Regions from separate parts of the Homo sapiens genome. Here regions 2 and 3 are each linked to region 1. The links come from fine-mapping of genetic effects on gene expression. Tissue or cell type: left ventricle. Region 1 holds a variant in brackets; each other region holds the start of a gene. All regions are shown on one strand. Distances are between the middles of the regions.

What was found. PIP is the estimated chance that this variant, and not a neighbour inherited with it, causes the effect.
Region 2: it holds the start of KDM1B, and the variant in region 1 is fine-mapped to the expression of KDM1B in left ventricle (GTEx, PIP above 0.99). The same link has a PIP of 0.9 or more in atrial appendage.
Region 3: it holds the start of DEK, and the variant in region 1 is fine-mapped to the expression of DEK in left ventricle (GTEx, PIP above 0.99). The same link has a PIP of 0.9 or more in atrial appendage.

Annotation. Positions count from the first base shown.
Region 1 is chr6:18,208,780-18,211,279 of GRCh38, reverse strand. The region is part of intron 17 of KDM1B (lysine demethylase 1B); the gene reads right to left. Among named protein-coding and RNA genes, the nearest start is that of DEK, 54 kb to the left of the region's middle. The variant C/T (reference allele first, on the strand shown) is at 1,402.
Region 2 is chr6:18,154,369-18,156,997 of GRCh38, reverse strand. It overlaps KDM1B (lysine demethylase 1B), which reads right to left and starts at 1,576. Exons shown (of 22, transcript NM_001364614.2): 1 at 1,427-1,576; 2 at 1,072-1,115. It overlaps TPMT (thiopurine S-methyltransferase), which reads left to right and starts at 1,921. Exons shown (of 9, transcript NM_000367.5): 1 at 1,921-1,965. RefSeq lists an enhancer at 636-875 and a silencer at 1,316-1,875.
Region 3 is chr6:18,263,341-18,265,969 of GRCh38, reverse strand. It overlaps DEK (DEK proto-oncogene), which reads left to right and starts at 1,440. Exons shown (of 11, transcript NM_003472.4): 1 at 1,440-1,585; 2 at 1,974-2,127. The coding sequence starts at 1,983. LOC124901270 (a long non-coding RNA gene) reads right to left here and starts at 1,438. Exons shown (of 2, transcript XR_007059486.1): 1 at 893-1,438; 2 at 1-240. RefSeq lists silencers at 1,080-1,359, 1,400-1,759, 1,820-1,879 and an enhancer at 1,765-2,316.

The sequences.
Region 1 (2,500 bases):
AATCTACCTGAGGCTTCAAAGATTTTGTATATTTGGCTTAACTCTCAATTCTAGGATCACAGGAAGTTCAGAGTTCTCTGATTTTGTCACTATTTTCTGCCACATGAAAATATTTTTATAAAGTATAAAATATGCTCTCTATCATCAAGAAGTTTATAATCTATTTATAGATAATTACCATGCAACCAAAAAAAATGAGGCAAACCACAACAAAAAACCAATTACTATCCAATTAAATTGCAAGAAAATAAATAAAATCTAGATTTTTTTCCCCTTTAAAGAGACAGGGTCTTGCTCTGTTGCCCCGGCTGGAGTGCAGTGGCATGATCACAGCTCACAGCAGCCTCAAACTCCTGTGCTCAAGTGATCCTCTTGCCTCAGCTTCTTGTAGTAGCTGGGACCATGGGTGTGCAGCACGATGCCCAGATAATTTTTTTATGTTTGGTAGAGACAGGGTCTCACCATGTTGCCCAGGCTGGTCTCAAACTCCTGGCCTCAAGCCATCTTCTCGCCTCAGCCTCCCGAAGTGCTGTGATTACAGGCATGAGCCACCCACGCCCACAAATCTAGATGTTTTCTTAATGACAAAATAGCACTGAAAAGCATAAGAACTTGAGTAGCCCAGGTGCAGTGGCTCACACCTATAATCCCAGCATTTTGGGAGGCTGAGGCAAGAGGATTGCTTAAGACCACGAGTTCAAGACCAGCCTGGACAACATAGGGAAACACTGTCTCTACAAAAAAAAAATTTTTAATTAGCTGAGTGTGGTGGCATGTGCTTGTGGTCCCAGTTACACAGGAGGCTGAGGTGGGAGCACTGCTCAAGCCCAGGAGTTCGAGGCTGCTGTGAGCTACAAGCTGCACCACTGCACTCCAGCTTGGGCAACAGAATAAGACCCTGTAAAACAAAAAAAAAAAAAAAAAAAAAAAAAAAAAAGAAAAGAAAGAGAAAAAAAAGAAAGAAAAGCCTTGGGTAAACAAATAGGCAAATGATATAAACACATCCTAGTAAGTAATAAAAGCGAGATGTCAATGGAAGCAGCCTAGACTGAGTTAGTCTGCTGGAGGTTCATCGGTCTATCACGTTGGGTTGAAAATTATTCTCTTACAAGTTTGGGGAAACTTCCAATGCAAACTGTGGTGCGTGCTAGCTACAATAAAAATATTTGTTTTAAACATTTCAAAGTGCAGCCTGAAGCTGTGCCCTAATTTCTCCAGAAGGCTGGAATACAAACACAGAAACGCACAAGTACTGGCCAGGGTCAGGCAGAGAGTAACAAAGCAGGGGAGTTAAAACCAGCTTGCTGTCCTGGACACCAAGAAGTGGAGCTACAGAACAGCAGAGGCTGAACTGTCGGGTGACTTGCAATTTTAAAAGGTAGTATTTTTAAACACTGTTTA[C/T]CACCAGGCAAAACCTATTAAGAGCTTACAGAAAAGGTCACTGCAGACAAGGTTCTCAACCACGGCTGCACACTGGAATCACTTGAGAAGCTTTAAAAACATGACTAGCCGGGCATGGTGGTGCATGCCTGTAATCCCAGCTACTCGAGGGAGGCTCAGGTGAGAGGATCCCTTGAACCCAGTTGCTCGAGGCTACAGTGAGCTATGACTGTGCCACTGCACTCCAGCCTGGGCGACAGACTGAGACCCTGTCTCTGAAAAAAACAAACAAAAAAGCGAGGCCAATTCAACAAGAACGCATCAGGGTGGGGCTTTCCAGCCTTTCTTTGTAAGCGCCTCCCAGGTGGTTCCGACGTGCAGCCCGGGGATTGCTGCCCAAGATCTCCGAGTTGGTTAATGGCAGGAATAATGTTAGGATCCCCTGCCCCGACTAACTCATTCCCTAGACCTGTCTTTCCCATGTGACATGCAGTCCTTTACTTCTGTATGAAAATCAAGGACTATGAAATAAGTTTTAGATACCTGAAGTGTAGGAAGCATAGCTAGTCTAGGAACTAGTGATAGTTCATCAATTATATTTTTTCATAGTCACTTAAGATATAACTAAACTTAAATTTTCAAGGTTTACTAAATCCCCTCTACCCCAAGGAGGCACCTTTATTCTCCAATACTATAAATCTCAGTGTGATTTCAGGTATTTGATTCAGCAGTACCTTGTACTGTTCACCTACTATAAAGCTGTTTACAAAAAATTTAAGCCATATGAAAGTACTTCTGATAGTTTCAAGATTTCAAGATGAAAACAGAACTTTCCTGATCTGAAGAAGGATTCCGTGGTTTAAAAAAATGTGGAGAGCACAGAATAAAAGTAAAATAGATTTCTTTAATGCAGGACTTCTCAGAGCCTTTAATATACTTCTATTTGGGCGGAGCACAGTGGCTCACGCCTGTTACCCCAGCACTTTGGGAGGCCGAGGCGGGCGGATCATGAGGTCAGGAGATCGAGACCATCCTGGCTAACAGGGTGAAACCCCATCTCTACTAAAAAATACAAAAAAAAAAAAAAATTAGCCAGGCGTGATGGCGGGTGCCTGTAGTC
Region 2 (2,629 bases), 54 kb after region 1:
TATATCAATATGTAGATTTCATTATAATAATCCCTAGGTTTTTCTGAAGCAGCTTATTCAAAAAGATTTTTTCTTTTTTTTGAGACGGAGTCTTCCTCCGTGGCTCAGGCTGGAGTACAGTGGTGCGATCTCGGCTCACTACAACATCCACCTCCTGGGTTCAAGCGATTCTTCTGCCTCAGCCTCCCGAGTAGCTGGGATTACAGGTGTGTGCCACCACGTCCGGCTAATTTTTGTATTTTTAGTAGAGACCAGGTTTCACCACCTTGGCCAGGCTGGTCTTGAAGTACTCCTGACCTCAAGTGATCGCCCACCTCGGCCTCCCAATATTGAATAATTCAATATTGAATTATTCAATATTCAACATGCAGTTCAATGATTCAATATTAAATCCCCAATTGCCTAGATATCTTTTGTTGATTCTCCCAGCAAGGCAAATAATTATTGATGGTAATTTTCTCATGTACCTCCTGAAGAAGCCTTCTCTCCCACTCGCCTTTCTGCCACTAAAATAGATTTAAAAACACAAAACAAAACTGGTCAAAGCCTTGAGTTATGTGTGTATACGTGGTGTGGGGGATTCCCCAACTGGAGTGGACTGGGGAGTCCTGCAGGCTTACCCAAGGGAAGACTGGACTTCTATGTGGCTGGTTTCCACATCACTGAACCCCAACTTTCTACAGCTGGGTCGGCCTCTTCCTTCCTCTTTCACCTGTCAGCTGCCCGGCCGTTGACTAACAGCTACCCTAATCGGGCCACCCCTCCTCCAGGTCTCCAATCCCAGAGGAGTTACCCCAGCAACCTGGCAATGCTCATCAAGTCTCAACGCGTGGTGGCTGTGCCAGAGAATTACTACAACACCTGCAAGGCTGTGCGGGCTCCTGGCCGCACCCTATCGGCCGGGAAGAACAAGCGAGGGAGTTCCTACTCCAGGACCGTGGGGTTCTCCCGCGGCTCTGACAGTCCCCAGGAGGGAGCCCCAAACTCCCGGTGCCAGCTGCAGCCGCCTCGCTTTCCGAGAAGCTTTCGGAAGCTTTTCGAAGTCGGAGAAGCAACTGCCCCGGGGCTCACCTTTGCGCTGAAGAGGTGCCGGGAGTCTCGGGGAAAAGGCACCGCTGTACAGAAAGGAAACATTGTAGGGGGGTTAGCCGACCGGCAACATCGCGACGAACCCGGCGACCCCACGCCCCAACACCCTAGCCCGGGAATTCCCCCTTCTTCAGACAGATACCCACCCCGCACCCTCTTTTAATCCGGGGCAGGAGGTATCCGTCCCTGGGGCACCCGCCCACCTCCCACCACGGCGAGGGGCGCTGCACAGGGGGAAAGGGAGGGCTTGCACCCCAACCAAGCTGCTTTGTGCAACGCTGTCACCCGAAATCCGCCACGGCCCCCACGCACGCCCCCGGAGTGGGGAGCCTCCCACCTCTGAGCGCCAGCGAGGCGGTGCGCGCCGCCCTGGACTGCGGGCGCCTCTCCGGAGCCGCGCGCCGCGCGCACAGGACGGCTGCAGCCGCGCCGCGAGCCCCAGCCTCTTCTCGGCCGCCGCCGCCGCCGCCGCTTCCGCCCCTGTCACGGCGTGACCCGGGGTGGGAGGAGCCGACAGGACTAGGGATGGGTAGGGTCCCCGCCTTCGCTTTAGCCGCAGCGCTCGCTCCGCCCTGCCCATTTCCGCCGCTGCGCAAACCCCGGCGCTTGGGGAAGTGGGTGGAGTCTGTGCAACGAGGTACGGGGCGGGAGTGGAGACGGGGCGCCGGGAGAGGGGGCGGGAACTGAGGCGGGGCGCGGGAAAGAGGCGGGGCGCGGGAAAGAGGCGGGGCGCGGGCGGAGGCGGGGCGCGGGCGGAGGCGGGGCGCGGGCGGAGGCGGGGCGCGGAGAAGTGGCGGAGGTGGAAGCGGAGGCGTACCCGCCCCTGGGGACGTCATTGGTGGCGGAGGCAATGGCCGGCAACCAGCTGTAAGCGAGGTAGGCTCACTCGGGCGCGGAGGGTGCGGGTGAGAAAGGGAACGATTTGCTAGGAGTGTATGCGCCCGTGCTAGGGCTCCCAGGAATTCTTACAAGCGTAGACAGCCTAGCAATCAGCCCTGTGAAGTGGGGTTCAGGGCAGAAGCGGAAACTGGGAATAACGAGGTCGGACAGTAAATGACCTGAATCCAATGTCCAGGATTTAAAGTGCTTCCAAAGCACTGGTGTGTTTTAATTATTTTTTTTTCTTTTTTCTTTTAGAGACAGGGTCTCCCTCTGTCGCCCATGCTAGCGTGCAGTGGCACAATCATAGCTCACTGTAACCTGGAACTCCTGGGCTCAAGTGATCTTCCCGCCCCAGCCTCCTCGGTAACTGGGACTACAGGCTCGCTGCACCACGCTTGGCTAATTTTTCAAATTTTTTTTTATAGAAACGGACTCTCGGTTTTTTCCCCAGCCTGGTGTATTAGTGATTTTTGGGAAAAAATAAGTACTGCCAAATAGTGAGTGATCCCTGGTGATGTGGGAAACTGGGGTGCTGTAAATATTCTGTCTTGCTCTGCGGTGGTTACACAGGTGTATGTATATGTAAAAAATTCACCGAGTCATACTCTTTTAAGATGTGTGCACCTTAGGAAAGTTTCTTCTCAATTTTATGAAATTT
Region 3 (2,629 bases), 55 kb before region 1:
CCACTTTGGTCTCCTCAACTCGTCAGGACCACCTGCCTGCAGAAAGGAGCTGCCCACTATGGGTCTCCTCTCCACTGAGGGCAGGACGCTAGTCGGGACAACCCCCCTGCAGAAAGGAGCAACCCACTTCAGGTCTCAGGAGAGCTGTTCTGTCCCTCAGTGAAGCTCCTGTCCACCTTGCTCACCCTCCAGTTGTTTGCGTGCCTCACTCTTCCTGGACACAGGACCAGAACTCAGGACCTGCCAAATGGTAGGATTGAAAGAGCTGTAACACAAATAGGGGTGAAACACAACCCCCCACTCCCAACCACGTTGCAGGCAGCAAGAAGGAGAGATGAGCTGTGGAGTGTGGATAGGATTTGAGTGGGATAAATAGTGTGGAAAATGGCATACCGTTTGAGGGTAGAAATGACACTATTCGCGTATGTTTTGGAAGGGGAACAAAAGGAAAAGGGAAGATTCAAAGGAAATGTCTAATTTTTGTCCTGCAACCCAGAGTCCAGGCAAATTTCACTGATCACATTTCTATTAAGTCCACTGAGTACAAGGATCCTTCAGGTGAGCTAGTGGTTGAAGAGTTGGGAGAAAATAAAGGAAATCACATACAAAAGAAGGCAGCATTGAGCAGGGAAGATACTGCTTTGAGTGTCTGCAGTGTTGAATGTGTAAAAAGCATCTGCATAGATGACCTAGAACTCTGGGAGAAGGGTCTGGACCCGGCCAAATAACATATTTCCTCTATTATAAAACAGAGAGTGTGTGTGAGAGAGGAGAGGAGAAGGAATGGGGTGGGAGGGAGCCTCTCCCCTTATATTTACAGGGGTGTAAATCTATGTGGCTGGCTATGTGAACCTTTAACGTGGCAGGTAGGATCTTTTTCCTTTCGGTGCACCTTACAAGCGATGCGGTCCTCAGAAATACAGATTTGGGAGTTATCTATCACCCAGCATGATTTCTGGAGCATTGATGAGACCGCTGATTAATTCTCCTCCGCCTCAGAGTAACACTGTCGATAGCGACTTCGGAGATCTCTAAACTTCTTTACCGCGCCCGCCGCGCCCCTCCGCGGCCCGGGACTGCTCATCATCTTTTCCAGGAAGCGACCGTGGAAACAATAAACACGCAGGCCCCCTAGCGTCCTTCCGTTCCGCGCTGCCAGGCCGCCTCGCCTCCCGCTCCCGCCCGCCCCGCGGGACACAGCCCGCCCGCACTCCGGGGCCCGAGCGCCGACCACACTCCAGGCGCAGCCGGGGAGAGCCCCGCGCGCGCATCCCTCCGCCCGCGGCCGAGGCGACCCCTCGCGGTCCCGCCCGCCCGAGCTTCCCGCGGAGGCACCCGGCCGCCCCGCCTCCCCCGCCCCGCGCCCGCCAACTCCCAGCTCGCGGCCCTGATTGGTCGCCGCATTCCCGCTCTCCTTCCCGAACCGCCATTTTGAAAATCTTGTTGATTCTGGGGAGCCGAGCGCGCGGCGCGAGCGTCACGCCAGACAGCGGCCCGCGCGCCTTCTCCTCGGCGTCGGCCGCCGCCGCCTCCCAGAACCTCCTCGTGCCCTCGCGTGCCAGGCCCGCGGCGGCCGAAATCCGCGGTAAGGGCTGCTTCGGGACGCCGGAGGCCCGGTCGCCCCTGCCGCGGCCGACGGGGGAGGGACGCGGCCATTTGGACGGCGGCCTGGGGCGGGGGAGGGGACGTGGAGGGCCGGCAGCTCGGGCCGGGCCGGGAACAGCGCAGGCCGGGCGGGCGCGCGCGCACGCGGGGCAGCGGGCGCGGTTTCCCGCCTCGGGAATCCCTGGACGGCGGCGGCGGAGCGGGAGGGAAGCCGCCCCTGGGGACTGAGCGCTGCGGTCCCGGCTATGGGAGGAGGCAACTTTCAGGGCAGGTGTCCCGCGGGAAGGGTAGCATCATTCAGGGTGGCCGCCCGGTCCTGCCTGCGGGAGTAGGAGGACCGAGACGTCCGGCTTTCTTCCCGCATGCAGGTTCACAGCATGTCCGCCTCGGCCCCTGCTGCGGAGGGGGAGGGAACCCCCACCCAGCCCGCGTCCGAGAAAGAACCCGAAATGCCCGGTCCCAGAGAGGAGAGCGAGGAGGAAGAGGACGAGGACGACGAGGAGGAGGAGGAGGAGGAAAAAGGTGGGGGGAGTCGCATCCCAACTGATGAATTTTTCAGACCGAAGTTTTTTTGTATTTTTCACCCAGGAAACAGTTTTCTTGCTCTTTTGGTGTTTAGAGGCGTGAAGTCGGAGTGATTTTCAGCGAGAATGTGTGCACAATTTATCTGCTTTTGTTTTGAGCGATGGCGTAGAATTGACTTTGTGTATTCCGGTTTTTAAAGTATTTGTTAGCGTGGTAGAGATGTATTGGAGTGCAGCCGACTTCTCGTCCGCTCTAAACGTTCGTTAACATTTCATCATTTGACGGGAAGTTTGTAGGTCTTGGATTTGATTTTTTTTTTTACCTGTGTGTGTGCACCTTTGAAGTTGCTAAGTGGATGTTCTAATTTTGTCCTTTTCATTACACATCTTTTGCCTTTTGAAGTTATTGTAAGGTCTTGGTGCAGCCCGTTAAGACTGAAGTTATAAGGCTAGACCCGGAAGTATTTGAATACTTTCGAATATTTTTACATTTACCAAAA